Regions from separate parts of the Homo sapiens genome. Here region 2 is linked to region 1. A link means that fine-mapping ties the variant in region 1 to the expression of a gene that starts in the linked region. Tissue or cell type: whole blood. Region 1 holds a variant in brackets; the other region holds the start of a gene. All regions are shown on one strand. Distances are between the middles of the regions.

What was found. PIP is the estimated chance that this variant, and not a neighbour inherited with it, causes the effect.
Region 2: it holds the start of NINJ2, and the variant in region 1 is fine-mapped to the expression of NINJ2 in whole blood (INTERVAL, PIP above 0.99). The same link has a PIP of 0.9 or more in left ventricle.

What each region holds. Positions count from the first base shown.
Region 1 is chr12:608,935-611,615 of GRCh38, reverse strand. All of the region lies in intron 1 of NINJ2 (ninjurin 2), which reads left to right. Among named protein-coding and RNA genes, the nearest start is that of NINJ2-AS1, 21 kb to the left of the region's middle. RefSeq lists enhancers at 1,184-1,685, 1,939-2,455, 2,456-2,681. The variant A/GA (reference allele first, on the strand shown) is at 1,587.
Region 2 is chr12:662,351-665,031 of GRCh38, reverse strand. NINJ2 (ninjurin 2) reads left to right here and starts at 1,587. Exons shown (of 4, transcript NM_016533.6): 1 at 1,587-1,704. The coding sequence starts at 1,672.

The DNA.
Region 1 (2,681 bases):
GCCTATAATCCCAACTTTGGGAGGCTGAGGCAGGCAGATCACTTGAGGTCAGGAGTTCGAGACCAGCCTGGCCAACATGGTGAAACCCTGTCTCTACTAAAAATACAAAAATTAGCTGGGTGTGGTGGTGTGCCCTTGCAATCTGAGCTATGCAGGAGGCTGAAGCAGGAGAATTGCGTAAACCCAGGAGGTGGTGGTTGTAATGAGCCAAGATCGTGCCACTGCACTCCAGCCTGGGTGACAGAGCAAGACAAAAAGAAAGAAGGAAGAAAGAAAGAAGAAAAGAAAGAAAGAGAGAGAGAGAGAAAGAAAGGAAGGAAGGAAGAGAAAGAAAGAGAGAGAGAAAGAAAGAAAGAAAGAGAGAGAGAGAAAGAAAGAAAGAAAGAAAAAGAAAGAAAGAAAGAGGGAAAGAAAAAGAAAGAAAAGGAGGAAAGAAAAGAAGGAAAGAAAGAAAGGCAGGCAGGCCTGGGGTTGATGTGCCTCTTCCTCTATCGTAACTTAGGGCACAGAAAAGGAAGTTCTTGGGACAGATTGCAGAACTGAATTTGGTAACACAGAGTTCTTTAAAGAATAGATGTCCAGCCTAGGTGCCGTGGCTTATGCCTGTAATCCCAGCATTTTGGGAGGTTGAGGCAAGTGGATCACCTGAGGTCAGGAGTTTGAGACCAGCCTGGCCAACATGGTGAAACCCCGTCTCTACTAAAAAGACAAAAAATTAGCCAGGTATGGTGGTGGGTGCCTGTAATCCCAGCTACTTGGGAGGCTGAGGCAGGAGAATCACTGGAACCTGGAGGGCAGAGGTTGCAGTGAGCCGAGATTGCACCATTGCACTCCAGCCTGGGCAACAAGAGCGAAACTCCGTCTCAAAAAAAAAAAAAAAAAAAAAGAATAGATTTCCAGTGCTGTGGTTGTCCTTGTCATAGCCCAGTTCTGCTAAACAAGGTTGAGTTGAAGTTGTCTCCTTCAGACTCTAGAGCCACATATTAAGTCCCTGCCTGGTAACCCCCTCCTGTGGCTGGGCTGAACAGAGTCGCTCAGAGCAGCTAACCCACCAGTGAAGCTGTGGTGGGCATCTGCTGCATGCAGGGCCCTGGGCTGGCCGCTGTGGGGACCCACGGGGGCAGAAGGCTGTGCTCGCTGACCCTTTTCCTCTCAGCCACCAGGCTGACCTCATTTTCCGTTGAGACTTCCTGTTCTCCAGTAATTGCTTGGTGGGGCAAGAGGCTTCAGTTCCAAGTCAGCAAATGGGATCTGAGTCATGATGTATATGGTAAGTGTGCCTCTGGCCACGGGATCTTCACCAGCTCAGCACTGGGTGCTGGGCACTGGGGACTGGGCAGGTGAAGAGGGCTGCCAGAGGGGCTGTTTCACTCACGCAAAAGCATTGATTCTGTGTCTGCTGGGTGTCTGGCAATGTGTGTGTGCATGTGCACTTGTCAGGATGGGGAAGGCAGGAGGATGGAAATGACTCTGCAAAGTTAGAGCTCAAAATGGACTTTGTAGCTTTTGGCCCCAGTGATGCCAGATGAATTAGGCTAGTAGGACAGCTGGGAGTGGAAAGAGGCCCAGACTCAGAATCGACTTGG[A/GA]TCATGCTCTAGCTACAACAAAAATGTGTGACCTTCCATGGTCAAACATTATTTCTCTCCTTCGTCTTTTTTTTTTTTTTTTTTTAAGACAGGGTCTTGCCACTCTGTCGCCCAGGCTGGAGTGCAGTGGTGCCATCATGACTCACTGCAGCCTAGACCTCCTAGGCTCAAACAATCCTCCTGCCTGAGCCTCCTCAGTAGCTGGGACAAGTCCCCTATTGCTGCTGTTGTTGTTTTCCCTATTTTTTTTTTTTTTTTTGAGGCAGAGTCTCACTCTGTTGCCCAGGCTGGAGTGCAGTGGTGCAATCTCAGCTCACTGCAAGCTCCGCCTCCCGGGTTCACGCCATTCTCCTGCCTCACCCTCCTGAGTAGCTGGGACTACAGGCGCCCGCCACCACGCCCGGCTAATTTTTTTTGTATTTTTAGTAGAGACGGGGTTTCACCATGTTAACCAGGATGGTCTCGATCTCCTGACCTCGTGATCCACCCGCCTCAGCCTCCCAAAGTGCTGGGATTACAGGCGTGAGCCACCGCGCCCGGTGTTTCCCCTATTGTTTTAAATAAAAGGATGATAATGCCTTGCTCAGCTCACAAGGACTACAAAATGGAAAAGAGAATTGGGCTGTGAGCCTTGCGAAGGCCCGCTCTGCATTTTACTCATCTTTGCGGCCCCTTCAGCACCTAGCGTGGCGCCGTGCGTGTGCGTTCAGCACCTAGCGCGTGGCGCCGTGCGTGTGCGTTCAGCACCTAGCGCGTGGCGCCGTGCGTGCGTACAGCCCCTAGCGTGGCGCCGTGCGTGCGCGTTCAGCCCCTAGCGCGTGGCGCCGTGCGTGTGCGTTCAGCACCTAGCGCGTGGCGCCGTGCGTGCGCGTACAGCCCCTAGCGTGGCGCCGTGCGTGCGCGTTCAGCACCTAGCGCGTGGCGCCGTGCGTGCGTTCAGCCCCTAGCGTGGCGCCGTGCGTGTGCGTTCAGCCCCTAGCGCGTGGCGCCGTGCGTGCGTACAGCCCCTAGCGTGGCGCCGTGTATGTGCATGAATTCTTCTGTGAGCGAGTGTTGCCTAGATTGAATTAAACAACAACAACCCAGAAAGCACCT
Region 2 (2,681 bases), 53 kb before region 1:
CCCTGCCCTTCGTCAGCAGCCCTCAGTCCCCATGTGCCTAAGGGGGCTCAGGAGCACTGGTCAAGCATCTCACAGGAAAATTTCGAGGGGCTTATCTTAGAGATGTGGGCCACTGAGCGGATACAGTGGGATGGGGGCACATACAAGTCAAAGCCAGGTCTCAGGATGGTCCACATTGCCACGAGCCAAGGTAGCGCAGACAGCAAGGGAGAACACTGGATCTCAAAGGCAGAAAGAGAATCACCCATGAGTGACTCTGGCCTAATATCAGACATCAGCCACCAAGGCCAGCAGAAGACCCAGGAGCAGGACCTGTGTCTCCTCAGCAGTCAGCAATTCGGGCGGGCCCGTGGGCCCAGCAGCTCCAGAACAGAAAGGAGCCGAGATGGAGAGGCCACAGGATAGATGCAAGAACCGTCCCCACCCCGCCCTCCTGTGCACCTAGGTGCCATCTTCTGCAAATCCGAAAGACTGAGCATTGTGTCTAAAGTGGACTGTTTACCATTTAAATGATTAAATCCAACTATGCTTCATAGATTAGACTAAAATATGGCCCCCATCCAATCATCCAACCCTCCCTCGCACCACTGTCCAGAGGGATGGGAACTTATAAAGGCATTTCATAGAACTGAAGAAATCGCCTTTTTTTTTTTTTACATTTGAATGTGGTGAGGGTAAACGTGTTGACTCTGCCTGTCTTCCTCCTGCCCGCACCTCTTCAAGCCCTGAATTGGATTACAGGTTAACACCCTGCCATGCACGTCTACAGACATACCCACACCCACACCTGCACAAGCTTGTGTCTAAACCTTGCTTCAGGAACAAGCCAGAAGAGTTTTGGGCTCTAAGGTAAACAGGAGAGGAAAAAAAAAACTTTCTAAAAAAAGACTCCCTCCTGGTAATTTTATTTTAAAAGTAGGGAGAATACCACTGTTTGCATAAACAAGCTTCGAAGGTACAACTACTCCCTGCTCCCTCTATGGCTAATCAAGGGAGGAGTTGAAGGAATCAAACAATCCGTCAGTAAAAACGTATTGTTCACTCACTTTGCAGAACAAAGCCTATGCTTTGGAGCCTATTAGGTAAACTACAATTTTTTTAAAAACTTTTAGGGATATAGGGAACAAAGCAAAGAACAACGGAAATCCCTCTGCCTCAGTATTGAGACTGTGCTGGAGGTCACTCCACCCGTGGCGACTGGGGACTGGACCCAGCGGTGAAGTCAGATAGCGTTGTCCTCAGGCTGTTTTTCAATTTGCTTGATAAACATGCAGGATTTCTTTGCCAGTCATAAAGCTACTAGCTCAAAGCAGGCTGGGTGACCTCAGATGGCTCCGCTGGGACTGGAAGGTCACTGGAGCCACTGGTGAAAATGATGCTGTCACTACCAACTCAAAAGGTCACCTATCAGTGTGCCATGTGCCACCTCCTGGAGCACACACATGTGCACACACATACACTCACACGTGTGTGCAGGTGCACACCTCCCCCAGAGGCTGCAGCCAAGACGGGCATCCCACATCAGAGGGATGAATGGCAGGTCTGTCCCGCCAGCTGTGTGCTCTCTCCCACCCGAAGAAAGCAGCAGAGACTCAGACGGCGGAGCCTGGAGGAGCCCACGCAGTCTGTTCCCGGCACCCGGTGCGTGTGAAGGGACTTGAGGGCAGCGAGATGGAATCAGCAAGAGAAAACATCGACCTTCAAGTAAGTTCTCTCTGGAAGAGAGCAGAGGGGAGACCGGGAGTAGAGGTGAAGCTGGAAGAACAGAGGATTGATACTTTAGTCACTTGATATTCTCCCTCCCCGTTCTCTTCTTACTCACTCCCTTCTCCAAATGCTCCCTAGGCTTTGTCTCTTTATTTTCTCTTTCTCTCTGTTTCCCTATCTGGTTCTTCACTTGTTTTGAAATATCTGAAAAACAGATTGGTTAACTCCCTTTTGGCCTCTGCTTCCTCTTGTCAGTCAAAGAGCTAATTAGATCCGTATTACCAGAAAATGATTTCACATTCTGAGCAGTGCTTTCCCCAAACCCCAGGACAGTAGAGACTTCTCTTAGAGCTGCCGGGGAGACAGGAAATATATGAGTTTTGAGGCTAGGAAGAGAGGCAGCTGGCCAACTTTGCATTTTACAGGTTGGAAAAAACTTGAGCCGTTTCTCGGCTGTCTTCACAAAGCTCTACTGTGTAGGACAGAAAGCGTCTCATTTGGACAGTGCAAGGAAAGGAAATCAGTCTAATCTCCTAGGAAGAGGCAGAGATGTGTGTCCCTCTGTAGCTGGGATGGGCTTGGAAGGCATCAGAGGTTCCAGTCCACTGCTGGAGGGGAAAGGGTGGGATGTTACGGTGAGAGGAGAGCCAGATTGCTGGGAGCTGCACTCTGTGACTCCTTGCCAATGGATAGAATAGAACGAACCCTTCTATGACCACTGCTGAGGCTGTGTAACATTGCAGAGAATCAAACAAAGTGTGGAAAAGGACTTTTGAGATCAAGAATTTCTGATCCCTGAACCTGGTCCTCGAACAAAATCTTAAGCAGCCACCCAATATACACTTCGGATTAAAGAAGAGCTGTTTTGTTGAAGCAGAGTATGTGCACGCGTCTCTCTCTCTCTCTCTCTCTCTCGTTCTCTGTGTGTGTTTTGGGCAGGGTGGCGTGAGTCTGGCAGAGTCTCTGTCCTTGGC